7 separate regions of the Homo sapiens genome follow, and all the other regions are linked to region 1. The links come from fine-mapping of genetic effects on gene expression. A gene starts in region 1. Each other region holds a variant in brackets. All regions are shown on one strand. Distances are between the middles of the regions.

The links. PIP is the estimated chance that this variant, and not a neighbour inherited with it, causes the effect. A credible set is the group of variants that fine-mapping cannot tell apart.
Region 2: its variant is the best candidate, but not a certain one, in a credible set for the expression of GSAP in whole blood (INTERVAL, PIP 0.83).
Region 3: its variant is the best candidate, but not a certain one, in a credible set for the expression of GSAP in whole blood (TOPMed, PIP 0.90).
Region 4: its variant is the best candidate, but not a certain one, in a credible set for the expression of GSAP in caudate (GTEx, PIP 0.69).
Region 5: its variant is the best candidate, but not a certain one, in a credible set for the expression of GSAP in thyroid (GTEx, PIP 0.66).
Region 6: its variant is the best candidate, but not a certain one, in a credible set for the expression of GSAP in NK cells (Gilchrist 2021, PIP 0.64).
Region 7: its variant is the best candidate, but not a certain one, in a credible set for the expression of GSAP in whole blood (INTERVAL, PIP 0.51).

Annotation. Positions count from the first base shown.
Region 1 is chr7:77,414,637-77,418,703 of GRCh38, reverse strand. It overlaps GSAP (gamma-secretase activating protein), which reads left to right and starts at 2,355. Exons shown (of 31, transcript NM_017439.4): 1 at 2,355-2,491. The coding sequence starts at 2,383. It overlaps LOC101927243 (a long non-coding RNA gene), which reads right to left and starts at 3,506. Exons shown (of 5, transcript NR_110073.1): 1 at 3,356-3,506. RefSeq lists silencers at 2,060-2,409, 2,630-2,839, 2,900-3,189.
Region 2 is chr7:77,318,493-77,322,559 of GRCh38, reverse strand. It overlaps GSAP (gamma-secretase activating protein), which reads left to right. Exons shown (of 31, transcript NM_017439.4): 25 at 1,157-1,227; 26 at 1,741-1,835. Among named protein-coding and RNA genes, the nearest start is that of CCDC146-AS1, 72 kb to the right of the region's middle. The variant T/C (reference allele first, on the strand shown) is at 2,344.
Region 3 is chr7:77,349,475-77,353,541 of GRCh38, reverse strand. GSAP (gamma-secretase activating protein) reads left to right here. Exons shown (of 31, transcript NM_017439.4): 18 at 516-598. Among named protein-coding and RNA genes, the nearest start is that of GSAP, 65 kb to the left of the region's middle. The variant C/T (reference allele first, on the strand shown) is at 1,563.
Region 4 is chr7:77,325,036-77,329,102 of GRCh38, reverse strand. GSAP (gamma-secretase activating protein) reads left to right here. Exons shown (of 31, transcript NM_017439.4): 22 at 466-497; 23 at 2,830-2,891. Among named protein-coding and RNA genes, the nearest start is that of CCDC146-AS1, 78 kb to the right of the region's middle. The variant C/T (reference allele first, on the strand shown) is at 1,781.
Region 5 is chr7:77,281,933-77,285,999 of GRCh38, reverse strand. It overlaps CCDC146 (coiled-coil domain containing 146), which reads right to left. Exons shown (of 19, transcript NM_020879.3): 15 at 3,215-3,443. Among named protein-coding and RNA genes, the nearest start is that of CCDC146-AS1, 35 kb to the right of the region's middle. The variant T/A (reference allele first, on the strand shown) is at 1,842.
Region 6 is chr7:77,375,398-77,379,464 of GRCh38, reverse strand. GSAP (gamma-secretase activating protein) reads left to right here. Exons shown (of 31, transcript NM_017439.4): 9 at 2,075-2,179; 10 at 2,558-2,617. Among named protein-coding and RNA genes, the nearest start is that of GSAP, 39 kb to the left of the region's middle. The variant TTG/G (reference allele first, on the strand shown) is at 2,063.
Region 7 is chr7:77,340,479-77,344,545 of GRCh38, reverse strand. All of the region lies in intron 19 of GSAP (gamma-secretase activating protein), which reads left to right. Among named protein-coding and RNA genes, the nearest start is that of GSAP, 74 kb to the left of the region's middle. The variant A/G (reference allele first, on the strand shown) is at 2,297.

The DNA of each region.
Region 1 (4,067 bases):
AAGTGTTCAAACACAAACCTATTATTATAGTGCTCTTTGGCCTGTGCCCTAAATTTTGAAATGATCACTCCTTAAAATTGAAACCCTTGGTTGCAAGTAAAATAAAAGTCTGACTGAATATCATTTAAACAATAGGAAATTCAACATCTCTAATATCAGAAAGGGCAGAGGATGGCTCCAAAAATAATTTACCAAGGTTTCTCTTCTCTGCAGTTCTCTGGACTCTCCTGACTCCAATGACTCCATTTTCAGTGTGCTAGATGGCTGAAATTCCAGCAATCATATCTAGATCCCGAAATAGTTAAAGACTGAAAGGGACCATCTTTTCCCATGTCTCTTGTTTTAAGAATAGAGAAATCTGTCATAGCAGAGGTTTCCTTACAACTCAGTGGCCGGAATCGGGTATCATACTCTGACAGAGATCTCTAATTGCTTCTGAATATCTACTTTCCCCACCTTCTTCAGTAATACCGTCCTGATTTTTATCTGGGCACAGCAATGGCCAGGTATATTTCCTTGCCTCCCTTGAAAGCTACATTTGGCCATGTGACTAAATTCTGGTGAGTGAAACATACGTAGAAATGTTGTGTAGAACTTCCGGGAAGTATCCTTAAAAGAGAGGTAGCATCCTCTTTTTATTCCTCTTCTTCCATTCTGATTTCTGGAATGCAGACGTGAAGGCTGAAGCTTCTGCAGCCCTCTTTGATCATGAGGACAAGGGTACACTCAGGATCAGGTGGAGCAAAGAACTGGAAGGAGCCTGGGTCCCTGATAAATTCAGGAACCTGCCCTAAGAGCTTTATTCTGCCTACGTCCAGCTAGGTGACAGAATAAAACTTGTGTGTTTAATTTACTGTTAATCTGAGTTCTTATTAACTTCTGGAGAATCTAATCCTAACTGATACACATGCCTTCATATAGCACCCTCATGATTTTGGCCACATCTTTCTATCATTATCTTATTGTTTCTCACCTTCTTTACATTGGCTTTTTCACTTAATTTGAAGAGAATTTTTTATATCATCACTGCTTGACTATAAAATCAGTCCTGCCTGGCAAAAATAGAAGTTAACTGCAAAAATAAAAACAATGGAAATGTACTGACTTTAAAAAATTGGCCAACAGTGTTTCTGTATGACAAAGGCAACAAGCTTATTTGATATGAAATAGTTGCATTAGCTCCTTGGGGGCTCCAGTGGCCTTCCTTTTATTCACTGATAATATTAGCAGCTTCATTAGGCATTTATCTTAAATTTGCATGCACTTCCCGGGTGGGAGGACTTTCCTCTGTATATGGTGGTGAGTAATGGAGTTCTACCTGAAATCATCCATTACCTCAGTTGGAGAAACATGTCTCTAGGAGGGAAAAAAATTCAAGACTTTCTTTTACATTTGGTTGGAGTAGTTTTCAAACTTAGTAAGCCTAAGAATCACCCGAGGCTCTGGGTAAAATGCACGTTTCTGGTCTTGTCCAGGTGTAGAGATCAGGAGTCTGCATTGTAAAATAGTGCCCCAGATGACGTCAATACAAGTAGTTTTCAGACCTTAATTTCGGAAGCATGTGAAAAAGCATTCTTTATTACTGTATTCACTCATTCTTCAGTAATTGTCGAGCACCTTCCAGAGTGCTCTGTTAGACCCTGGTGGGAGGCAGAGGGTTTGCGTGGAGACTTAAGATTCAGTTTTCATGTCTCAAGGCATCAAATGAGATGTACTAGAGTTAAAAGGCAAAAAGGACGCTGTTTGTATCAAGCGCATTAACCCCTTTTAGCGTTTCTCTTACAATGGGATCACCTTCGTCATACGCTCCCAGTTGCTACTCATTACCTTAATAACACTAATAAAGCACCACCACCTCGAAGCTGGGGCGAATAGGCCCAAGAGACGGCCTACTTCTGTGGTGACCCTGAACTGCTCCAGAGGACCCAGCTCTCTCAAGCCAAGTGGTTTCCACACTTTGCTGCACAGTGGAGGCACTTGTAGAATAAAGAAAATAGGCCGACCCTCCAGGTTTGGAAGCCACTGGGCTAGCGGCCTCGCCAAGGCCCTGAAGCGCCCACGTCTTTGCGCCCTCTATCCTCAGCCCCGAAGGTGCGCGCGGAGGCCTCCCGCCCCGGCGGGCCTGGTCCTGGCGCCTGGTCCACCCCGCCCCACCGCTACCCGCCGTGCCCGGCTCCGGCTCCGGCTCAGGTGCGGGCCGCCGGCCGGGAGGAGCTGGTGCCGGAGCTTCTCAGGCCAGGGCGCTGCAGAACCGAAAGCAGCAGGGGGCGGGGGAGAGGAAAGAGGGGGCGGGAGCGGGGACGCGAGGGCGAGGCGGCCACGCGGGGCCGGGAATGCCCGCGGTGCGGGGCCCCAGAGCCGCCCGGTGGTCGTGTCCGGGCGATGGCTCTTCGCCTGGTCGCCGACTTCGACCTCGGGAAGGACGTGCTCCCGTGGTTGCGGGCGCAGCGGGCAGTGTCGGAGGCCAGCGGGGCCGGAAGCGGCGGCGCAGGTGCGGGAGGCGCGCTGCGGAGAGGGGTGGGGGCGGGGAGTGGGAGTCCCTCATACCCCCCGGACTCCGACCCGGTGGGGAGCAACCCGGGGCGTCGCCGCCCTGAGAAGGCTGGTGCGAGGGCGTCGCTCCCCTCCTCAGAGGGCTGTTTTGGCTTTGCCACCCACACCCAGCCACGGCGGAAGGTCTGGGGGCAGAGCCCGGGCCAGGTCGCCGTGGGGCCTGAGGCGCCTGGCTCGCTGCCGGCCCGCGGAAATTCGCCCTTGGCAGAGGGGCCGGGCCGCTGGCGGTTCCCTCAGCATCACCTCACGGCGAGGGCAGAGGGTCGTGCTCAGCTCAGCGGCCGCATCCCACCTCCCGGGGGGTTCATCGGCAGCGCAGGGGCTTTGCCAAGACAGGAGTGCTCCTGGAAGCTTCACGTTTTGAGAAAGAATCCGTGACCACCAAGCAAACCACCCTATACCTAACGGTGGAACAGTTTGTCCCCACATTTGCGAGACGTGTTTATGTGTCTGTTGAACCGTGTCCGTGGCTCAGGGGACATGGGCCTCGGCGGTGAGGCGCAAGAGGGCAGGGGCCGCCTCCAGGCTGCGCGCGGCGGGGCGAGAGCCCCCAGCCGCCCCCGAGCTCCGCACCTGTGCAGGCTGGGGCTGCGCGCGAGATGCTCGGCTCCCGGCCCTGCCACTCCGGGCTTTTTGATGATTTGGTAAGGGAGTGAAAGTGACTTTTGAGCCTTCCCAGCACTGATCTGTTTTAAAGAAGGGGAACTTTGTGATTTCTTACAAAGTTTTAAAAGTCTTCTATAAATATTGGAGCTTCAGAGCTTAAATGCAGCTTCAAAGCAATGATGCCTGTAGGTCTCACCTTGTGTGTAGGGCGCTGTCCACTTCAGTGAATTTGGAAGTGGGTATTAAATGACCCACATCTACAACTCCTTTCCCTTAAACGCTGGTGAAAGTTTTCTTGATGTGAGTTATATATCAAGTTGCTATCTTGTATCTTCACACTCTCCTATGACTATAGCGAAATTATTTGTAGGTTTCCTTGGCTTGGAATATTATTAGCTCCAAATAAGGAGTTATATGTTTGTGTAGCGTATGCATTGAGTTTGCATTAGTGTCATGCTTAGTAAGGCTTTACTTTTTTTCGAGGTGGAGAGGGTGGTCAAGGAAGAATTTTATACAAAAATTAGCTGGGCGTGGTGACACGCTCCTGTAATCCCAGCTACTCGGGAGGCTGAGGCAGGAGAATCGCTTGAACCTGGGAGGCAGAGGTTGCAGTGAGCCGAGATCTCGCCACTGCACTCCAGCCTGGGCAACAGAGTAAGTCTCCGTCTCAAAAAAAAAAAAAAAAAAAAAAAAAAAAAAAGTCGCCCACATGTCTGAAAAGTTTTTGAAGGCTTAACTTTTTGAAATACAACAGGCAGCTCTGTCTTCTACTACCAAGTACTCCTTTTTCTGGACTCCCACTTTATTTTGCTAAATGGCAGGTGTCTGCAAATGAGAAGTTAGATGAGTGTGAAATGCCACAGTCTTATGTTTCCGTAATGTGTGTCGTGCTTGAAAAGCTGTGTGTG
Region 2 (4,067 bases), 96 kb after region 1:
ACATCCACCTATCACCTTTATTTCTGTTGACTCGAAATCTTACTTCCCAAAGTGCTAAGAAGGGTTTCCATTCAAGCGTCATTTTTCTCCATTGTTAATAACATAAGTTTTAACACTAGTTTGTGTTAACAGCCTGTAGAACCAATAGGCCCAGAAACGATACATATGAAGTCTCAGAAAACTCAAGGTCCCTGACATTGACTCAGCAGTCACTGATTGAGGCCACATCTCCCTGCCCCTGCCCAGCAGCCACTAGTCATGCCTTCTGCTCCCCTCTAAGGAGAGTGGCTGGCATCCTTTCTAAAACATATCCAAGGAAGTTGCTGCAGAACCTGATTATATTGGTTACATGTTAACTTACTTAATTTCAGCCAAAGAGAAACTGAGGATCTGTATCAAGGATAGCGTTTGCCTGTGAGTCTATGGAGATCCTTCTGCTTTGCCCCGTTTTTAGCCCACACAATGTGTGGATTCGTGGCTGATAACAACTCCATAGGGACTGCTCTTCTGCTGGCAAACTCGTTGCAGCGTTAGAATGGGTTTCTGGATAAAGCTCTAAGACAAAGAAGGCTACCTACTTTGGTTGATTAGTTCCAGTCAGTGTGCTAACCAATTCTTACAAAAACCCTATGAAATATTTCCCCTCACTTTACAGATGAGGACACTGCAATTTGGAGAGGGTGGGTAACTTGTGTAGGGTAACACAACTAGTAATGTATAGAATCTGGACTTGATACCAGTCTTACTTCACAGCTCATGATCATGACCTCCATTCTGTGTCTCTTTTCTTCTGACTGTCCACTGTTGGCTCTTGCGTTGTGACAGGCCTGGAGCAAACCCTGTAGCACTTTACCTTCACTGATGGATGGGGGTCTGTAAGTGTGAGTGGTGGGGCCAGTTAGCTGGGCTGGGGAGGCTGAGCTGGGGCACTGCCCACACAAACAGAGGATGCTTTGTTAGTTTCTGGTGCACATTTTCAGTCTTTCTATTTTGGGTTCAGTGCTTCAGAATTGACCTCAGAAAGGCTAGTTGTGTGTCTGGATGCAGCCTGAATGCCAGCTGCCCTGAAATGCTTATCTGAGTTGTGGAGGCCTAGCTGTGGGGCCCTTGAGGGAAGGAATGGAGCAATGGTTAATGGACTGTCTTCACCCTCCAGCTGGATCTCATTTGCCACATCGTAGAAACCAATTGGAGGAAACATAATCTTCATTCCTGGGTTCTCCACTTGTACGCAAGTATTTCTCACTTTTATCATGGTGTACAAAGAGTGGAAACAACTCTGTTGTAGCAAAACCCTTTTGAAATGCACTAGTTCAAATCAGTTCTCACCAGCTTCAACACCATCTAGCTTAATTCTATACTCAGCATTTAAAGTTATGCCCCCCTGCATATGTACCCTTTAATGTATAATAAAAGCTAAAATTAAAACAAAGTTATGCCCGTTACTTTACCCATCCTCTTTCCCTGGCACATGGTTGGTGACAGGGGAGGGACAAATGAGCCCAGTACTGCCAAGAAGGGGAATTTCACTTAATACAATGTGTAACATATGTTCCTACTCTGATTAAATTCTAGGCATTAGGCCGATGGTCACATTCATATTTATGGGGCTTTCTACAAGGCATAGCATTTCATGATTAGCATGAACCCTTGTGTAGTACTCAAAGCCACTGCTTAGGACAAATGGAGCATCACAGATGAGCTCCTTGGCTGACATGCTGCTTTGTTTTTTTTACCCAGCAATAGTCGTGGCAGTGCTGCTGAATTTGCAGTTTTTCACATCATGACCAGGATTCTGGAAGCTACAAACAGTTTGTTTTTACCTCTGCCTCCTGGTAAGTGTTGGCTCTTTTGTCCTTTGGTATAATAAATTTATTTCTTCTTCATATGGGCCCTTGCCTTTGGTACATTATAAGTTTGATGATGAGACTTGTGTATGAGAAATTGTGTATCTGGTGTTACTGTGAGTGATGGGCCCTTAGGTTGGTCTCTGCTGACCAGAGCTCCTCTGACTACTAAACTATGATGTAGCTTATTACTAACTTTAGGGAACCTAGGCTTACCCCATGCAGCTTTCTAGGATAATTTGAACTAGTAGAACTAATTCAGGGAGCTCTGTCTCTGATGTCTCCAGGCCTAGTTTATCTGATTGAGATGTCTGAAGATTAACACTGGGAAGTCGGTCTGGCTTGGTGCCAAGAATTGAACTGATTCTTATACGCTTGGAGGCTAAAAAATTCCCTTGGAATTTTTAAATAGGATCAAGTCAGGCCACAAAACATCCTGGGGAGATGTATATGCAGTCATTCATTTAATTGGTCATTTGTTCATTTAGTCAACAAA[T/C]ATTTGTTGAGCAACTATGACATGACCGGTAACGTGCTAGAAATTAGAGCAATTACAAAGATTAGTAAGAGTCTAGTTGGGAAGATGTACATAGAAATCAGTATCCATTATGAGAAATAAGCCCCTGTTAGCTATAAACTGTCTTGTGCTCATTACATATCAGTTCATTTTTTTATTGTGTAAGAACACTTGAGACCTACCCTCTTAACAAATTTTTAAATGCACAATACAGTATTGTTAAATATAGGTACAATGTTGGATAGCAGGTCTTTAGAACTTACTCATCTTTCATAGCTGAAACTTTATACCCATTGAACAGCAATTACTTATCCCCTACTCCCCGGTTCCTGGCAAGCACTGTTCTACCTTCTGTGTCTATGAGTTTGACTACTTTAGATACTGCATGTAAGTGGAATCATGCAGTATCTGTCCTGTGACTGGCTTGTTTCACTTAGTGTAATGACCTGAAGTTTCATCCATGTTGTCACATGGAGCAGGATTTCATTTTTTAAGGCTGAGTAATACTCCATTGTAAATTCTACACTTTCTTCATCTGTCAGTAGACATTTAGGTTGTTTCCCTATCTTGGCTATTGTGAATATGTTGTGATAAACATGGGAGTATATACATATCTCTTCAAGATCCTGATTTCAGTTCTTACAGATATTTATCCAGAAATGAGATTACTGGATCATATATTGATTCTTTTTTTTAAATTTTTTGAGGAACCTCCATACTGTTCGCCACAGTGGCTGTACCACTTTACATTCCCACCAACAGTGTATAAGGATTCCAATTTCTCCACATTCTTGATAACACTTAAATTGTGGTTTTTTGATAGTAGCCAACCTGAGAGATGTGAGGTGATACCTCATTGTGGTTTTGATGTGCATTTCCCTGATGATTAGTGATGTCGAGCATATTTTCACATAAGTGTTGGCCATTTGTCTGCAATCTTTGGAGAAATGTCTATTCAAGTCCCTTGCCCATTTTTTAATCTGGTTGTTTTCTTGCTATTGAGGTTTGAGTTCCTTATATGTTTTAGATATTAACTCTTTGTTAGATATATGGTTTGCAAACACTTTTTGTCATCCTGTAGGTTTTGCCTTTACTCTTTGGATCGTTTCCTTTTATACATATATATTTTTATTATTATACTTTAAGTTTTAGGGTACATGTGCACAACACACAGGTTTGTTACATATGTATACATGTGCCATGTTGGTATGCTGCATCCATTAACTCATCATTTACATTAGGTACATCTCCTAATGCTATCCCTTCCCCCTCCCCCCACCCCACAACAGGCCCAGGATCGTTTCCTTTGCTGTGCAGAAGCTTTTTTGTTGGGTGTAGTCCCTCTTACATATTTTTGTTTTCATTGTTTGTGCTTTGGATGTCATATTCAAGGAATCATTGCCAAGACCAATGTCAAGAAGCTTTCCCTCTATGTTTCTTTTAGGGGTTTTTCAGTTTCAGGTCTTATGTTTAACTTTCTAATGCATTTTGAGTTGAATTTTGTTTATGGTAAAGATAAGGGTCCCATTTCATTCTTTTGCCTATGGACAGTTTTTCCAACACCATTTATCAGAGATACACGATCCTTTCCCCATTGTGTGTTCTTGGTGCTTTTGAAGATTAGTTGCCTAAACATGAATGGATTTATTATTGCATATAAAGTTCTAATGAGTGTTAAACTTTATGATAGCTGTAACTACATATCA
Region 3 (4,067 bases), 65 kb after region 1:
GAATACTTGACCTTTTTGCTTGAGGGAAAGCAGTAAATTGATAGTGAATGCCTCAACCTGTCCAAATGCTACTTTGGAGCACATTAAAAAAAAAAAACAAAACTCTATCGGAGTCAGCAGCTAATTAAATTTCATTCTCTTGTGGTTTTCTAAGAAACTATGGCTGTACAGAGATTGATGAGATACAAGATAGGATCTTGATTCTATAACCTTATTAGTGATTTTTTTTTCCAGTAAGATGTAACTTTCTTAGCCCAGTTTTGTGTTGGCTGGTTTCGTATGAAATGATATAATGTCATTTGGGTAGATATGGTACTAAGTTATTCTTCTCATTGTAAAAAGCAGAACCTGAACATTTTAGTCAGTAGATAAAATCATGATGGTTACCGTTTTGAGGATGAGGGATAAGACAATGAAAACTTTGTTGGTTTGCGTGTTTTGGTTGCATTACAATGCTGTCATCATCTTATTAAACCACATCTTTTTTCCCCCTGTTTCAAAAAAAATCTACTCAGCTTCTTCATACTGGAGTGTATATTCAGAGACAAGTAACATGGACAAACTATTGCCACATTCCTCAGTGCTCACTTGGAATACAGTAAGTTAACACTGTGTATGCTGTATGCAAATAAAATCAATTCACAGTTGTGGGTCAGTTGTTGGACACCTCTCTTATAGCCATCAAGGTCGTGATTTCACTACTGTTTTGACTGATAAAGAACTCAGTTGAATTTTTTTTGGCAGAAAAGTAATAGCAAATCCCTGCTATTGGCCAAAAGTATTTGTATAAAAACAGTAAAACCAAAGGAGCAGGTACACAGGGTATTTATTATTCTTCCTATTACCAGGCAGAACTAAACCTCTATCATGGTATTTTTATTTTCTAAGTGACTAGAGTGGATTAAAATATGTACTGAGTTTTTATAAGTGAGGAATGGGTGGATTGCTGCTATCATACTTGGTAGATAAGGACCTTCACGACCCCTTTTTCCAGCCCCATTAAAAAGTCTGTAATAACTCTAGAGCTTCAGGATCAGTAAAAGTCAGCAATCTTAGGCACATTCACCCCAAATGACTTTTTCTCCCTGTCGGTTCTGACTCCCTCCTTTTAAATTAGGATGTGCTGAGCTAAAACACTGCTCATTTTCTCTTGAATATGGTACAGTAGACAGAGCTTTGCTGGCCCAGCAAGTGAAAACCGTACATAGGCTGTGCCTGAAAAAGTTCTGCCTCATGTTTCTTATTTAGATATTAGAACTACATGCTTGCTTTTGAGGCAGAAGTTTATATCAAAAAGGTACTTAGAAAAATAAATTGAATTTAAATAACACAGTCATAGGAAAATATGTACTAGAGTAAATGGTGACACTTTATGTTTAGACCCTGTCTAAATATAGTCCTTAAAAAAGATGTATCAAGTGTGTTTGATTAATTTCTAAATTTTTGGTATGCACAGTGGCAGTGCTTTCCTAAAGGCCTTTTCTTTGTCTTTTACTGTCGTGGTTATTAGACTTTTATGCCCCACCTTAGAATTTAAGGGAAAGAAAGGCCTGAACTTGTTC[C/T]CTCTCTAGGCACCCACGTTTTTCTTTTGGAACACATGTGAATAGACATGCAGACCCTGTGGTCACATGGCAGGAAGTCTGCAGGTTACACCACCCCAGAGTCAGGAAATGCACATCTCCGCTCCCTCCCTTACCAACCCCCTGCTGTTATGTCCTGTGTTCAAAGTGTCCAGGAGGCAGCTGGGACCACTGGTTCCCAGGGTTGTGTTAAAAGACTGAGCCACATGTTAATTGGATGTGGTGTGAGAATATCACCCTGAGGGTAACGCTTCCCTTTTGCACTTCTCAAGATTGTGCAGGGTGGAGCAGCTATTGTGGACACGCACAGGGTGACATCAGGAAGTCCAAGAAGAGCGATATAAAGAAACCTGTGGTTATAACCTCCCTGTACTGAACTAATCTTGGGGTTTGCCATGTTGCTTTAAACTTCTTGTGGTTGGACTAGGTTACCTTAAAGGTCTCTTCTAATCTTGAAAATCTATCAGTCTATGCTTATCATTAGCTGTGATGCAAATCATTTATTTTTCTCTTATCTGCAAATGTTCTTAATGCTACAACCTTAATAAAAAGTTTCCACAGGCGAAAACATGGATTTCACATTTTTGTAGGAGACAACTGACTTGGATTTTTTAAGATAATAGAAAATGTGATGCCCTTACACATAGATAATCCTGAATTATGTTTTGCAAACAACTATACCTCTTTTAAAATGCTATTTATAACCAAAACTGTAATGAAATTTTAATTTTTTTTGAGGTATCCTCTGTAGTGATAAATGAAGCACACAATAGATTCTTATCACGGCTTTCAACTGTCACATTGAAGAACTTAGTTGTTTGCATGTTCTGAAAACTTATTTCTCTGTCCCCATGATACCCTTTTTTACAGGAATATTCTATATCAGTAAAATCTCGGTCATTTAAATTATAGACAAATATCAATTTTTATTTCTACATTACATCTCCTAAAATATTTTCTTATATACTTATCTACTTTTTTTTAAGGAAATGAAAGCTGATTTGACCAGATGAGAGGCTAATTACATAATTAACATACAGATACACTTTTCAAAATAATAGTGAATAAAAGGCAATCTTGAAAGTTTATCCTTTTATTAAATTTCTGTTTTAACACTCACTAGTTAGCAGAATGCTATCATTTGCCCTTCTTGAAATGAATTGTTCACCTTTCAGATTTGCCATGATGATAGCACTGCAGAAACTCTTTTTTTTCTTTGGAGACGGAGTCTTGCTCTGTCGTCCAGTCTGGAGTGCAATGGTGCAGTCTCAGCTCACTGCAACCTCCATCTCCCAGGTTCAAGTGATTGTCCTGCCTCAGCCTCCTGAGTAGCTGGAAATACAGGCGCCTGCCACCATGGCTGGCTAATTTTTTTTTTTTTTTTTTTTTAGTAGAGCGGGGTTTCACCATGTTGGCCAGGTCGGTCTCAAACTCTTGATCTAAAGTGATCTGCCAGCCTTGGCCTCCCAAAGTTCTGGGATTACAGGCGCGAGCCACTGCACCTGGCTGCTGCAGAAACTTTTTTTTTTTTTTTAATTATTATACTTTAAGTTTTAGGGTACATGTGCACAATGTGCAGGTTAGTTACATATGTATACATGTGCCATGCTGGTGTGCTGCACCCATTAACTCGTCATTTAGCATTAGGTATATCTCCTAATGCTATCCCTCCCCCCTCCCCCCACCCCACAACAGTCCCCAGAGTGTGATGTTCCCCTTCCTGTGTCCGTGTGTTCTCATTGTTCAGTTCCCATCTATGAGTGAGAACATGCAGTGTTTGGTTTTTTGTCCTTGCGATAGTTTACTGAGAATGATGATTTCCAATTTCATCCATGTCCCTACAAAGGACATGAACTCATCATTTTTTATGGCTGCATAGTATTCCATGGTGTTGTATATGTGCCACATTTTCTTAATCCAGTCTATCATTGTTGGACATTTGGGTTGGTTCCAAGTCTTTGCTATTGTGAATAATGCCGCAATAAACATACGTGTGCATGTGTCTTTATAGCAGCATGATTTATAGTCCTTTGGGTATGGGGGGCTCCTACCTCTGAAATTACAGAGGACAATGAGGTACAGAAAAATTACCCAGTCAAGTCATGCAAGAATCCTGTTAGTCTTGATTCCTTCTAGTGAGGTAGGGGCCAACTATAATACATTTAAGTGAAAGAAGAGAGAGGAAGGAGTATTGATAATGAAACATTTCCCCTTTATCGTTACATTTGGTGCAAACATAATTTGCCTCATTCGTTCTTTAATAGAAATGTATAAAAATACCCTATTTGCTCTCTATTTCTTTGTAATAGTCTTTTCCTTTACTTTAGAGACCCTGTCACCTATTATAATTGTGACTTTAAAGAATGTGTCCTTTCCTGAGGCAAGAGATAGGCTATATTCACTGTTATTTATGCCCTCCAAGGTTTATTTAAAGTAGAGGTTAGAAGCTGGAAGCTGCCCTCAGCTTCTGTCTGTGCAGAAAACACT
Region 4 (4,067 bases), 90 kb after region 1:
AGATGTTTACAATGGATAATTGGTAAAGAAATTTCCTATTAGCATTTTAGGAGAGAAAGGCAAATAGTAGGTTGATTTTTTTTTTTTTTAAAGTGTCAGTGGGCTAGTGAGCTTGCTTTTATTTTGAAAGCCTATTTTCTGGATATATGAGTCATCTCAGAGTACTAAAAGTATAGGCCCCATTCCAACCTCTGTTCTATTTTCTGTCCCCATTATTTTCAATAACTGAGAGCTACAGTTGTTCTAAATTATTGCCGTTGTTGGCACTAAAGGGTTTTGAGATTTTTTAATTGCCTAATGTGGCTTTCACTACATTGATCAAAGTTTTTGAGGTTTTCAGCAGCTTGAGAATAGTTTCTACAGTGGTTTTTATGAATTTTTAAAGGAGGATATCTTTGTATGATGTGGCTTTAAATTTTTTAAAAGCAATGCTGTCTGTGAATAACATGGCTAATTTCTTCGTAGGGTGATTTCTAACCTAGAAGCAAGAAATTTGGGTAAGAAAAGATCTGTAATAAAGCCTTCTGGGTTCCAGTCAGTGTTTTGTTTGTAGCACTGTTCTTCCTACCACTGTGGGTTGGCAAGAGAATCACTTCCAGTAGTGTGGTGCAGGCAGCACCTTTTAATATCTTGCTGTTAGAGTGGCCGCACGGCTCTTCCCATGTCTGTCTAGGCACCAGGACCTCCGGGGACAGCTGCTGAATGTGCTTTTGCGATGGGAGTCCCTGGGTGATGGCCTTGCGGTTCTCCTTATTTCCTGTCATACAGAGCTGCCCTCTGGCTGTGCCCACAGGATGCATTTTGGCATTTCCCTTGGCTTGGTGCTGCTTGCTTTCTAGCTGTCTGATCCTACCGGGTCTTGCCTTGTTTGTGCCTCTCATTTGGGTTAAAAATTGGGCACACAGGTCCTAGAGGCATAAAGATGAGGAGCTTCCAGGTAAGCAGTGTGGTTCTGGGGGAAAGAGCACAGGCTTGAGAGCTAGACAGAGCTGGACTTATATTCCAGCATGGCCTCTTGTGTGAACCATGTGCTCCTGGGCAAGTCACTTACCCATTTGTGCACTGTCCTTAGGGGAGTGAGGAGAAAATGAGACTAAATGGGGTAATGCAGATAGCACCTAACATAGTGCTTAGCACATGAGGGTACCTGAGGTGGCTGCTTTATTCCTTAGTGTGTAAAGAAGAAATGTTAACATGTGGCTTCTAAACCAAATGACAGGTATTATATAATCCATAGGTGCGGGGAGTGAGAGGATAGGTTAGGAGCGGGGATGGCTGGAGGAGGGAGGGAGGTTGGAAGAGGCTCCCCAGAGGGCTGACAGGTGAGTTAAGTCTTGATAAACAAAGGGGACTTGGCCAAGTGAAACCAGGGGAGGGGAATGCTGAGCATATTCAGGCACAGGCTTATTTGTAGTTGCCAGAAGAACACTTTCGTGCCTCATGAAGGTCAGCCTTCATTAAATAAGCTTTTGTTTTTATATCCCACTCCTGTTTTATGGGCTTGGATGTTGGGTGATTCTAATGGAAACTATTTTATACAGTGCATTGCTGCACCTCCTCCAGCTGTGCACACAGCACAGTGAACTGTGACAGTGCACTTGTCATCCAGCTTAGGCTGACAGAGCCTGGGCTCACTGACCAGCCCAGGAGGAACCAGCCTCTGCCTTACCAGGCCATCAATCCCTGAAGCCAGGGGATCTGCCCTGCCAGACACGGGCATGTGTGTGTGTGTTTCAGGCTTATCATCCTTGCATTGCTGGGGGTTTCGCAACACGGGGAA[C/T]GTTGCTGGTCTGGCTGAGGTTTCTGTCGTGCCACCCCTCCTGCCCTGCTTATGGAGCTACTGTATGTGTCAGGGCCGTTTGCATCCTGTTACTAGTCAGTCTATCTTAATGCACTTTAGGAAACTCTTCCCTTTCCTTGCACGTGCTTTGCGTATACTAGTTCCCCATAAAGAATGTCACTGCCTGAAACAGAACATTCTGTGAAATGCAGGGCTGTTGGATTCACATGTTAAATTGTTTCATCTCAATCACGAGGGTTGTGTAGGATCCAGGGAAGATTTATCCCGGGGGGTCAAGAGATATCGATGCCCTCCCAGAAGGAGTTGCCAGCCCACTGAGCAGGGTGGTTCTGCCCTCTTGCCTGGCACTGGATCTCAAGTATTTAAGAAGAAAAGAATGGAATACAAAGAAGTTAGAAGCGCTTTGGGGCAGATTTTCCAGCAAGACTGGGTTTGTCTGCCCCTAGGGCCACTACACTGTAGTGTGCATTGCAAATCATGGTGGAGAAGGTACCATTTGATTTAACATATCACTTTTCCACCTTTACCTAACTACCTTTGTAGTCTGATAACTTGTGCCAGTTAGTATTATTTGCTGCAGTAATTGACTGGCCCCCTCAGCTCAGTAACTCCCAAGGCTACTGAACTACAGGGTTCAGAAAGTAGAAGGGAGCCATGCAGTCCTTCCACCGAGCGCTGTTCCCTCAATTTATGACCCCAGAAGGGTTAAGAGAAGGCCCAAGTCCCTCTGTTTCCAGTGGAGCAGAGGTTCTTAGCAGTGAGTTTTAGTGTTGAACAAAAATCAAAGCTAGAGCCTACTGGGGTTGAGGAATGTGTTGGTTTCTTTCTTTCTCGGTCATTCCCTGTTTCACACAGCTCTGATAAGTTCACCTTGTAGGACTAGGTCACACTTAGGTGATGAAAAATTTTCATCCTGTGTTATGTTTTCTCAATGACTCAGAGAAGGGAAACCCAGGCTGATTCTTCTTCCTTCTAACCCATCTCCTGAAAACTGCTCAGAGCCTAACTATTGCTCTGTTTCATTTCAGGGCCAAGATTAACACCCCTCCTGCAGGAGGAAGACAGCCACCAGCGGCTGCTCATGGGGCTGGTAAGTGGTACGTGGGTTCTTTAGGGGCTGGCAAACAAGGAACCCTAAGACAAGGGGAAAGGATTACAGTGGGCTTCTCATTCTGATCTTATTCTTTATTCTTTGCACAAGTATGTTTTGCCAGCATTATGGACCTTGTGTGCCCAGTGGTAAGCAACCCATATGATTTCTGCCCTCTTGGAATGTGTAGTCAAAGGGGGAAGACACACATGCATCACACCAATACATATGTAATTTACAAACCATGATAAAAGGAGTGTATAGTGTTGAGAGTGCTTTAAAAAAGGAAAGAGCTGCATCTTTGTGGCATTTGTATTTGGGGTTTCAAATACAACAGAACAGGCCGGGCACAGTGGCTCATGCCTGTAATCCCAGCACTTTGGGAGGCCAAGGTGGGCGAATCACCTGAAGTCAGGAGTTCGAGACCAGCCTGGCCAACATGGTGAAACCCTGTCTCTACTAAAAATGCAAAAATTAGCTGGGCATGATGGTGCACACCTGTAATCTCAGCTACTCAGGAGGCTGAGGCAGGAGAATCGCTTGAACCCAGGAAGTGGAGGTTGCAGTGAACCAAGATTGCGCCACTGCCCTCCATCCTGGGCGACAGAGGGAGACTCCGTCTCAGAAAACAACACAAAACAACAACATAAAAACAACAGAACAAAGTACTTTTTCTCAAGAAGTCATAATACTAGGATGACCAAAAAAATATGAATCAAAATAAATTTTCAATTGAAAAGCAGAATTTGTAAATAAATCCAAAACCTTTAAAAAGCTGATTAAAGAGACATCTGGAAAGCCTAATAAGATATTTTTTAATACCATGTGGACTTAAGAATGGGATAATCTATTTATTAGTTTAGGTTTAATTTTCAAGTTTTCTGCCTTTATTGCAGTCATTAGTGTTGTTTCTACATAATATATTTGAATTTCTATGGTAAGGTTTGAGTTTCATAGTTTTTAATATATTAGGAGAGGTTAGTTTAGATATGCCAACAATAGTAAAAGAAAAATCTCACATATACAAGAAGGAAATAATTATAGTACTTTTATAAAATTAAATATTGCACAGCCATTAAAATAGTATGGCAAACATGGCTGGGCACTGTTGCTCACACCTGTTATCCCAGCACTTTGGGAGGCCGAGGTGGGTGGATCACCTGAGGTCAGGAGTTC
Region 5 (4,067 bases), 130 kb after region 1:
GAGACCAGGGTAACTCACATACAACACACTGGACTTCATTTCAAAACACTTGGCTGGCAATAGGTTTAATGGCTTCCCAAAGAAAGAGAAAAACATTCTTAATTATTGAATCTACCTAATGTACACTCTGTGAGGAACAGCTTGGGCTATTTGTATTTTTTCTGCTAAATCCCTAATATAGTGTCATATGTATCAACTCTATTTGTTGAATCAATGAGATTTTGGTGGTGAATGAAGAAACATGGCTACTCCTAAATAGGAATGGTAGCCACACTTAGTTTTTGTTTTATAGGGAGAGAGATACGGAGCATGGTGACAACCAACAAGCATTATTTTCAGTTTTCCTACTGAATACCTGTGTAATCTCAGGTAAATCATTTATCTTCTCTAAACCTTAGTTTCCTCACTTGTCAAATGGGAAGAAAAGGCTCAGTGCCATGGGGTTGATCCATCATATGAGATAATATATTGATGGTATTTTACAACATGTCTAAGACTGATACAGGTAGCATTTTTAAAATTTAATTTATGCTCCTCCTCCCTACAAAAATAATTACAAATGCTGACAAATAATTTAACATTTTTCTTTTTCCTGTATCTACATCCCTTAAATGTCCTTAATATAGAATTGAAGTGTACATACATATGTAATCAAGCATTTGTTGTATTTATTATTAACAATACTTAATGTTCCCTTTTCTTAATTAGGAAACTAAATAAGAAACAAAAATATAGTGCTTGCTTATAAAGGGATGTCTCAATTTTAGTTTTCCCTTGGCATTTGAGGAAAAACTGTTTACTCTGTCTATGTAAAATAGTGTCCTTGTGTCCCAAAATAGTTCATATAACTTCCTAAAATTGAGCTATCATTATAGGAACCAGGAGAACAGACTCATGATAATCCTTGGATTAGATTGTTGGACAATTAAAAACTGTTATGGACGACCGAAAAAAATGCAAACCTTAAGAGAATTCTGAAAATGATGCAAAAAAGGGAGAAGACTTAAAAAAAAAACAAACCCCAAGACACTGTGGCTGTAAAAAATGACAGGATATGACCGGGATCTGACACTGCAGAACAGGGCACAGAAATGGCTTGCCTGAAGCTAGAAATTTCACATCATATCCTTCAAGGGTACACATGATTGATGCTGAGCAGATAATCAGAATTCACTCCGGTAGAGCAGATAACTGATAACACAGTCTGCATGTCTCAGTTCATGTGCAATCAAAATGATCAAAATTCACCATCAGGCAGGGAGTGTAGTGTTATGAAATGCATAATATTTCCTTCTTGGGTAAAAGTGAATTTACATTTCATACTAGATAATAGGTTTTATATAATAAAATGACAATTTTTTTTCTAAGAACAATTTTATCCACTGAATGGAAGTATTGATTTGCAGTGAACACAAAGAATATGCTTATACAATAGAGAGGAAATTATTCTGTTGCAGATTTTATTGAATTTAAAGATCTTTTGTGTTGCTCTGCATCTTGATAGTTTAGGATGGGCAAAGATGGACCTAAATCTTCATTTTGGGAAAAAGCTGGAGAGAGACAAATTCTTCTGTAAAATGGAGTGGGGGCAAGCATGGAGTTCCTGGGGGCAATCTGGGATGAGGAGGCTGTGGAGGGAGAGGGGAGGTGAAAGAGAAGCCAGTGAAATCGAGCTAGGCAAGGGTGTGGTACAAGGTATTAGTGCTCAGGGAAGCGTCTCCAGTGCCCCCAAGAAGAGTATGGATATCTGATATCAAATTGAAGTGCTTTGCATTTCTGTAATGTAACCCCACATACCATTGCCCCACATCTTTAATAAAGTCTGTCCACAGAGGCCTCGC[T/A]TGAATGGTCTTGTGTAGGTGTAGCCTGAGGAAGGGGTGAGTTCCGTGCCTTTGCAGACATGGCACAGAAGTGGCACAGGCACTGTGTGTGCAGGCTGATGGGTGATCCCTCAAATGAACCTTGTTGGAAGCAGGAGTCAGAGCCACAGGAAGCCTGGGGAGGCCTGTGGGAGTTTAGGGGGACTTTCTAGCCAATCGATCTCAATCTGACTACACTTACTGAAGAAATGAGTGGAAGAACTCAAGGCTAAATTAAAAAAACAAACAAACTTGGAATCAGAACATTGGCATATTTGTGCAAACTGAAAGAGGCTATTATCTATACAGCATATACACATTCAAATGGCATAAAATATGAAAGCAGATCTATCATCTAGTCCCATGAAATCCTATGAATCCCCTTCACATGATTAAAAAAAAGGGGGATCTAAAACTGTCTAGGGCATGAGCTAATGAAAAACATTTACTTGTATACCTAGAAAATAAATGACAAGATGTCTCCCAGATTTTTGATAATTTTAATAGCAATTATATCTTGGGAGTAGAATTTTATTTTCTTCTTTATAATTTTTATACTTTTACAAAATTTCATTCACCAAATGTCTTAACTTTTTATCAGGAAAAAAAATCCAAACGCAAACCTGACATTTAAAAAAAAATATTATAGGTTAGAATTTGTTCCTGCTACATTGGTCAATGGGAACAAGTTTAGGCTACACAGTTTTTATTTTAATTTTTAAAAAAATTCTATGAAGAATAAACCCCAAGTAACACATGTGAAGAAAGTAACTTTATATTCACATTTTATTTATTTTGTTATTTCATGTTTTAGTTTTTTGGATCTATTCCACTTTAAAAAAGGCCATGTCAAAGGCCAGGTTACTAAGCTATCATAGAACTACAGTGGTTAATAAAGAATCAAGTTATATGTAACTGACAACTACTAATAAGCAACAATCTCCAGACAATCTCTTGCTCTGGGGGCCAGAGTATCAAAAGTAAGAGTGCTGGCTCATCCTCAAGATCTGTCCAGCAAGCAGCAACGACATAATTATGCTGAGGGTAGTGAGAGTCTAGATCACTAAATTTTGAGCTATGAGGAAGCTGAGCTAGAGATAAGTCCTGGGAGTCTTCAAATTCCAAGAAAAGCAGAAAATGCTTCATAAGAAAAAAAGACAATGTGTAGCCTGGATGCCTGAAGCACAGATTCCATCCTAGAGTAGCATTCAAATGTATTTTTAAACAAGATGGATGGATTCTTATAGGTCCCAGAAATAGTATGGCTTGGTTTACATGCAAGAACTCACCCACAAACTAATAAAGGCAGAAAAAAATAAATGGTCTGAGGAAGTGTCCCGTGATCACTCACCCACCTGAATTTGGAGCACAGCTAGGTCGGCATCCAGGGACCTCTTGGCTGGCAGTAATTTCTGGGTCACACAAATTTGTCTTTGCTTCTCAGCAATCTTCATTTTCAGGAATTGGATCTTTTCTTCCAGTAGATGTATTTCAATTTCTCCATTTAGTTTCATCTTCTCTTGGATATTTATTTTTTCATAAAAAATGCATATTTCTTCTTCCCGCTCTATCAGCTGAACGCCACTATGGTCAAATTCAGAGGCAGAGGCTAAGTGGGCATTGAGACCACCGTTTTACTAGTCATTGTGGTTCCCTCTGGCTTTGGATGCAAGATATACACAACATAGCATACTTCCAGAGGATCACAGATAGTCACCAATGGCTTTCTAGTTAAATTACATCCACACTTTGGAATTCTCTAGGGATAGGAGGGTTACTGAGCCTCTCAACTTTGAGGCTGACCATGTGGTTGGCTAGCCACAATGTCTCTGAAAGTCCCAAAGGTTTTCCTGGGGTGGGAAAGAATGTCATTCCCAATGCACAAACAAAGTGATCCCATAGTCTGATTTTCTGCAGATCCTTTTCTCGGGTCAGACTTGCCAACCAAGGCCTGGCCAGAAGCACACAGGCAGGGGGCCAGGGAATGTAGTTCTGGTGTGAGTCTGCTCTATATTAAGTTGCTAGGCCCATTAGTTTCTTCTCAAGTTGAATATTTCTGGTTGTGATTTCCCCATAAACAGGCAAAAATCTATCCTTTGTAATCATGCCAGGAGAAAGACCCCTCCTTGAATGGAGAATATGGGGAGGAAACAAAGTAAGAATGTTCTAACCCCAGCAGCTCTGGTCTGCATGACCGATCATGCACCA
Region 6 (4,067 bases), 39 kb after region 1:
CTTCCAAGAAGTACTTCTGCCTTCATTCTTAAAGGCTTAGATGACAGCTTCACACAGCATAAGTATAATACCATCTCTATCATGCAGGGATGTTGCAAAGAATATGCAATTCCACATATTCTTTGCAACATCCCTGCATGATAGAGATGGTATTAGGCTTATCCCTATTTTTACAGAGAAGACAGCAACCAAGACTCACAGAGGTGAGGTGACTCGATCTAGAGAGGAACAAAACTGAGATTTGAACCTGGGTATGCCACAATCTGACATTCATTTTCTTGTTAGTACATACCTTTACCTGGAACGGTTCTCAGATCTACTCCAACTCAACAAATTTCAGAAAAATGATTGTCCAAGGTTTAGAGACAGACAGGTCCTCTTGGATCTTTTCTCTGGCATCACTTTCCTCTTGTCTAAATATAATGGACAGGGTAAGCGGAAATAGTGGTTTACAACTCTTTATGCCACATGGCCCCCCTCAAGTTGCAAGTTACCATCGGTGGAGAAATCCCTATTAGGATTAGGGAGGGTTTAGGCATGAATATGGACCATTCTGGTGTTTCCTTTTTTCCTCATTTCTTCTACCCTAACCTGTCCTTATTCTTTACTCATCTACCTCAATGTAGATTACTTTTGCTTAATAAGCATTTTGAGGAAAGTTAATTCTTAACTGCTTCTGTTAAATTATTTCGAGGTCAGCTGATGCACTGAAAGGGCACTGGGAGGATTCCAGGACGTGGATTCCAGACCTTGCAGAACTAACTATGCAGCCTAATCTAACTGCTCAGGACCTCAGTTTTCTTACCTGTTAAGGGGTTGAATTGCATGGTTTCTAGAATCTCCTGATTTTAATGTTCCATAGTTCTGACTTTGTTACTTAGTAAACAAATATTTCAAATTTACTCTTGCACACCTTATTTCATTTTCTGCCTTTGTTTTTTTTTGTTGTTTTTTGTTTTGTTTTTTATTTTTATTTTTTTTGAGATGGACTCTTGCTCTGTCACCCAGGCTGGAGTGCAGTGGTGGGATCTTGGCTCACTGTAACCTCCGCCTGTTGGATTCAAGCGATTCTCCTGCCTCAGCCTCCTGATTAGCTGGGATTACAGGCATGCACCACCATGCCTGGCTAATTTTTGTATTTTTTTAGTAGAGATGGGGTTTCACCATGTTAGCCAGGCTGGTCTTGAACTCCTGACCTCAGGTAATCCACCTACCTCGGCCTCCCAAAGTGCTGGGATTACAGGCATGAGCCACTGTGCCCAGCCCATTTTCCGCCTTCCAAACAAACATTCCTTGAGCACTGTTACATGCTAGAAACAGTCAATGCATTGGTAATAGAAACGTGTTGTAGAAGAGTGCGTACTCACTGGGGGAGGCTTATAGCATTAATTAAAATGTAATTGTCAAAGCAGCATGCCAATGCACCATTGGAAAACAGGTGAGGATTATACTACATCTTGGGGATGTGAGGGAAGGCTTTGTGTAGAACACAATGTGTAAGTCAGGTCTTGAAGAATGAGTAGTTAAGTATTGCTGAGAGATGGGCAATATCATCATACTCATCATGGAAGACATAAAGGTGAGAGGCATGCCCAAAGCTGCATGGTTGGTTTATGGCCAAATTGGGGTCATTGCCTACTACTTTCCACTGTCAGGCCTGAGTTTTTCCTTGGCATCACAGCCTCTGTCTTTGGTAGTGGAGGGCTCTTGTCTGCAGAGGCTTGACTTAAGAGAGTTAGGTACAGAACAGTAAGTTCCGAATCTTCTATTAATGCAGCTATTGATTTGTGGGAGGTGTGGTGTTGTCTTCAACAGCCTCAGCCTGTCTGCTAAACTAAGAGCAGGAATAAAATCATATATTATACGTGGGAAGAAGAGGAGGCAATGAAATTATGTCTTAAAACATTTCTGGAAAGACTGTGTATACTAGGGGTGGGGAGCTTCTAACAGTGAACTGTGGAAATATTTACATGTATCATAAAGATAGACATGGAAAATAATTATGAATTCCAGATATGTTCTCCTTTAAAAGTTATTCATACTTTTTTTTTTTTTTTTTTTT[TTG/G]CATTTTTAGGTGATTAAAAATTCTGGCCATCTCCCAAGAGACAGAATAGCTGAGGATTTCGTTTGGGCTCAGTGGGATATGTCAGAACAGAGATTATATTACATTGACCTGAAGGTAAAAAAACTAGTTCACGGGCACTCCTTTTTTTTTTTTTTTTTTTTTACAAAAATATTAATTTTTTTAGAGACAGGGTCTTGCTCTCTTGCTGAGGCTGGAGTGCAGTGGTGTGATCATAGCTCACTGCAGCCTTGAACTCCTGGGCTCAAGTGATGCACCTGCCTCAGGCTCCTAAAACATGGATTACAGGCATGAGCCATAGTGCTTGGCCCCAGCACTCTTTTTTATAAGAACAATTTGATTTTGACATTATTATTACTGCAGTTCACTAATCATTACATTTTCATTGATGGAAATAGTGAAGTTTTGCTTCTTGACTGCTTCCTTTTCTTTTTTTCCTGGTTTTTTAATATGCCATTCTGTTTTCTCTTTTAGAAATCAAGGAGTATCTTAAAATGTATCCAGTTTTATGCTGATGAGAGCTATAACTTAATGGTAAGTCCAGAAAATGATCACACTACAGGAAAGTTTATGATACATTACTCTCTTTTTTTTTTTTTTTTTTTTGAGATGGAGTCTCACTCTGTCGCACACGCTGGGTGCAGTGGCGCGATCTCGGCTCACTGCAAGCTCTGCCTCCTGGGTTCACGCCATTCTCCTGCCTCAGCCTCCTGAGTAGCTAGGACTACAGGCACCCGCCACCACGACCAGATAATTTTTTTTGTATTTTTTGTAGAGACAGGGCTTCACTGTATTAGCCAGGATGGTCTTGATCTCCTTACCTCGTGATCCACCTGCCTCGGCCTCCCAAAGGGCTGGGATTACAGGCATGAGCCACTGCGCCCAGCCTATAGATTACTCTCTTTTAAGAGAATTGTTATCATAAGCAGCGCTTTAGCATTCCTGATGGTTGTGTTAGTTACTCGTATGAGCAAGTAAAATTAGTTCTTGCCACCTCCAGGTTTCCACTCTATAACAAATCCAGTTAATGTAGGTCATTAGAAGAACACACACCAGAAATGTCCAGTAACTAAATGCTTCACATCAAAGAAAAATGTGTAAGTGGGGATTAGTAGAAGGTGTCAGGTTGGTGCAAAAGTAATTGCAGTTTCTAATCATTTAAAAGTAATGGCAAGAACTGCAGTTACTTTTGCACCAACCTAATAATTGATGGGGTCTGTAAGAGATAGCTTTAAGGGGTTATAAGTTATTTGACCCAAAAGGACTTGTGAGGATGGTGGATTTGAGAATAAAGAGACAAGTCAATGAGAGGGTATAGTTTAACCAAAATCTAGCGTTACCCCTGAAAAAGCTATTTGGAATGTTAGCATTGTGTTCTATCAGTGGAAAAAAACTTCTAAAAATAGGAAAATTTCAATTTAAGAACTTGAATTTTTTAAAAAAAGATTAAAAAAAATTAGAATTGTGGTGAAGTGTTCTTAATATCTTTGTGATGAACAATATGGTGGTTGTTTTTTTGTTTGTTTTTTTTTTTTTTTAAGACGGAGTCTCACTCTGTTGCCCTGGCTGGAGTGCAGTGGCATGATCTCTCTTCACTGCAACCTCTGCCTCCTGGATTCAAGCAATTCTCCTGCCTCAGCCTCCCTAGTAGCTGGGATTACAGGCACCTGTCACCATGACCAGCTAATTTTTATATTTTAGTAGAGATGGGATTTCACCATGTTGGCCAGACTGTTCTTGAACTTCTGGCCTCAAGCAATCCACCTGCCTTGGCCTCCCAAAGTTCTGGAATTATAGGCGTGAGCCACCATGCCGGCCTATTCTTCTTGAGTAGGACTAATGTTGCTATCTAATACAGATTGTTATGCCATTGCAAGAATTGCACTTACCCCTCCTGCCCTCTGCTCTCCTTCTAAAGACACCCAGGCCTTCCTTCCTTCCTTACTCAGTCATCTATGTCTTGTAAAAGATGGTTGCTTCCAAT
Region 7 (4,067 bases), 74 kb after region 1:
TATGACTAGACAGAAGATAGTACGGATGACAAGTTTTTGGGGTGCAGTCCAAGTTGGGCTGGTGTCTGGAATGAGCCTGGAGCCTAACAAAAAGGAGCGTCCATACAGAAGCTCAAATGGGCTGTACCCTGTAGCATCCCGAGGACAGGCCTGAATTCTGAGAAGGGCAAGTGGTAAAAGTATTGTCCAGTCCTTTTTAAGTTGGAGGCTGAACTTGGCGAGGTGTGTTTTTATAAGACCATTAGTCCATTTTACCTTTCCTGAAGATTGAGGATGGTAAGGGGCCTGAAGGTTCCACTGAATACCAAGAGCCTGAGAAACTGCTTGGGTGATTTGACTAGTAAAGGCCTGTGTGTTATTGGACTGTATAGAGGTGGGAAGGCCAAACCGAGGAATTATATCTGACAGAAGGGAAGAAATGACCACGGTGGCCTTCGCAGACCCTGTGGGAAAGTCCTCTACCCATCCAGTGAAAGTGTCTACCCAGACCAAGAGGTGTTTTAGTTTCCTGACTCCGGGCATGTGAGTAAAATTAATTTGCCAGTCCTGGGCAGGGGCAAATCCTCAAGCTTGATGTGTAGGGAAGGGAGGGGGCCTAAACAATCCCTGAAGAGTAGTAGAATAGCAGATGGAACACTGAGAAGTGATTTCCTTGAGGATAGATTTCCACGGTGGAAAGGAAACGAGAGGTTCTAAGAGATGGGCTAGCGGCTTATAACCTATATGGAAGAGGTTATGAAATGATGACAGAATAGAATGGGCCTGTGAGGCTGGAAGGAGATAATTTTCCTTGGTCTAAGAACCATTTGTCTTGTGTGGGAAGAGATTGATAGGTAGAAGTTAGTCAGTGGGGGAGTAGGTGGAAGTGACCGATGAGAAGGAGAAAAACTGGCAGTGAGGGACAGAAATTGGAATGCTAGCTGCTTCTTTAGCTACCTTATCAGCATAAGCGTTGCCTTGAGCGATGGGATCTGACACCTTTTGATGGCCTTTGCAGTGAATGACTCCAGCTTCCTTTGGAAGTAAAGTGGCCTTGAGAAGAGTTTTTATTAAAGAGGCATTAATGATGGAGGACCCTTGCATAGTGAGGAAACCTCTTTTTGCCTATTATATAACAGCATGGAGGTGCAGGATATGGAAGGCATATTTAGAGTCAGTATAAATATTGATGCGTAGTCCTTTTGCAAGATTGAGGGCTTGAGTTAAGGCAATGAGTTCGGCTTGCTGAGAGGTAGTGGAGGGGGGCAGAAAGTATATGCGTCAGGTGTGAGGAAGAAAATAGATTTTGGAAGTTATGAGAACTGTAGAGAGTGAGTTGAGCATAGTTTGTGATTTTGAGGGCCTCTAAAAGTATTAAAGCGCGGCAGCTGCCACACACAGACATGAAGGCTAGGCTAAAACAGTAAGATCAAGTTGTTTGGACAGAAAGGCTGCAGAACACGGTCCCGTCTCTTGTGTGAGAACTCCAACCATACAGCCCTGCACTTTGGCTGTGTGTAATGAAAAGGGAGTGATAAGTTAGGGAGAGCTAGTGTGGGAGCTGTTTTTTAAGGAATGGAAAGGAGAGTGGGGAAAGGATTTAGGATCTATGGGGTCAACTAGGTTTATCTAGAATAGAATAATGGGTTGTGGAGGGAGGTATTGAGGATAGGAGAGTATATAGGTTTGGCACTGTGGGGTGGATAGGCAAAACAATTTGGTTGATAAGTCGCAGATCCTGAGCTAACCTGTAAGGCTTGTCTGGTTTTTGGACAGGTAAAATAGGGGAATTGTAAGGAGAGTTTACAGGCTTTAAAAGGCCATGCTGTAATAGGCAAGTGATAACAGGCTTTAATCCTTTTAAAGTGTGCTGTGGGATGGAATATTGGCATTGAGCAGTGTAAGGGTGATTAGGTTTTAATGGGATGGTAAGGGGTGCATGATTGGTCGCCAAGGGGGGAGTAGAGATGTCCTATACTTGTGGATTAAGGTGGGGAGATACAAGGGGAGATGCGAAGGAGGCTTTGAACTAGGGAAAAGGGCAGAATGAGAGTGTGGCTGTAACCTAGGAATAGTCAGGCAAGCAGATAATTTAGTTAAAATGTCTTGACCTAATAAGGGAACTGGGCAGGTGGGGATAACTAAAAAGGAGTGCATAAAAGAATGTTGTCCAAGTTGGCACCAGAGTTGGGGGAGTTTTAAGGGGTTTTGAAGCCTGGCCTTCAATACCCACAACAGTTATGGAGGCAAGGGAAACAGGCCCTTGAAAAGAAGGTAATGTGGAGTGGGTATCCTCTGTATTGATTAAGAAGGGGGC[A/G]GACTTACCTTCCACTGTAAGAGTTGCCAAAAGCATCTGTGATGGTCCAGGAGGCTTCTGAGGTGATGGTGCAGCGTCAGTCTTCAGCCGCTAAGCCAAGAAGATCTGGGAAGGAGTCAGTCAGAGAGCCTTGGGCCAGAGTTCCAGGGGCTCTGGGAGTGGCTGCTGGGCGAGTTGGACAGTCTGATTTCCAGTGGGGTCCCGCATAGATGGGACACGGCTTAGGAGGTATCCCAGGCTGTGGGCATTCCTTGGCCCAGTGGCCAGATTTCCAGCACTGAAGTAAGATCCTGGGGGAGGAGGTCCTGAAGGAATGCTTGACCACTGTGGCTTAGGCATTTTGAAGTTCTTGTGTGCTGGAGATGTGGCTGGGGTTTCTCTCACGGTGGAGGCAAGGAATTGCAACTCAGAAATATGTTGCTACTTGGCTGCCTCTACTCTATTATTGTACATCTTGAAGGTGAGGTTAGTTAAGTCCTGTTATGGGGTTTGAGGGCCGGAATCTAATTTTTGGAGCTTTATTTAATGTCGGGAGTGGATTGGGTAATAAAATGCATACTGAGAATAAGACGGCCTTCTGGCCCTTCTGGGTCTAGGGTGGTAAAGCATCTAAGGGTTGTTGCCAAATGGGCCATGAACTGGGTTGAGTTTTATATTTGATGAAAAAGAGCCTAAACACTAACTGATTTGGGAGAGGTCGGATAAAGAAAAAGGAGCATTAACCTTGACTGTGCCTTTAGCTCCAGCCACCTCTTTAAGAGGAAATTGTTGGGCAGGTCGGGAAGGGCTAGTCGTGGAATGAAACTGTAAGCCAGACCAGGTGTGAGGAGGCGAGGTGATAAAAGGATTATAGGGTGGGATAGTGGAGGCTGAAGAAGAATTGGGACCTGGCTTGGCCTGGTGAGGAGCAGCCTTGGGGAGGAGGGGAGAGGTCAGATGGGTCTGTAGAAAAGGAGGATTCAAGGACTCAGAGCTTGGGGTGGAGACTGAAGGAACAGACAGGAGAGAAAGAAGACAGATTTGGGATGAGTCACATTGGGAGCAGAGACTAGGGAGGGACCAATGTGTAGAAGAATGCCTGGAAGTCAGGCACCTCAGACCCATTTGCCCATTTTTCAACAAAAATCATCCGGGTCTTGTAAAATGGAGAAATCAAAAGTGCTGTTTTCTGGCTATTTAGAACCATTATCAAGTTTGTATTGGGGCCAAGCGGTGTTACACAAGAAAATAAGATGCTTAGGTTTTAGGTCAGGTGAGAGGTGAAGAGGTTTTAAGTTTTTGAGAAGACAGGCTAAGGGAGCAGAAGGGGGAATGGAGGGTGGAAGGTTGCCCATAGTGAAGGAGGCAAGCCCAGAGAAAAGAGAGGGTAGAGACACGGAGAAGGGGTGGGGGTAGTGAGCAGCCCTGGGCTGCAATGTGGGTGAGCAGCCAAAGCAGGCATCCCCGCAATTGACTTGCCACCAAGGGAATGTGGGTGAATGACCAAGGCAGGCATCCCCACGGTGATCAGACACCAATGGAGTGTGGGTGAATAATCAGGCAGGCGTCCCCGCAGCGATTAAACACCAAGGGAAGACTATCTTCCCGAGTCTGTGACTGGCGCCGGAGTTTTGGGTCCACGGATAAAATGTGTCTTCTTTGTCTCTACTAGAGAGGAAAAATAACTGGAATTGGAAGGACAGGGAGATTGAAGGGTAGCAAGAGAGGCTGGAAAAGAGAGTGAAAAGACTGCCTACCCGATTTGAAATTGGTGAGATGTTCCTTGGGCTGG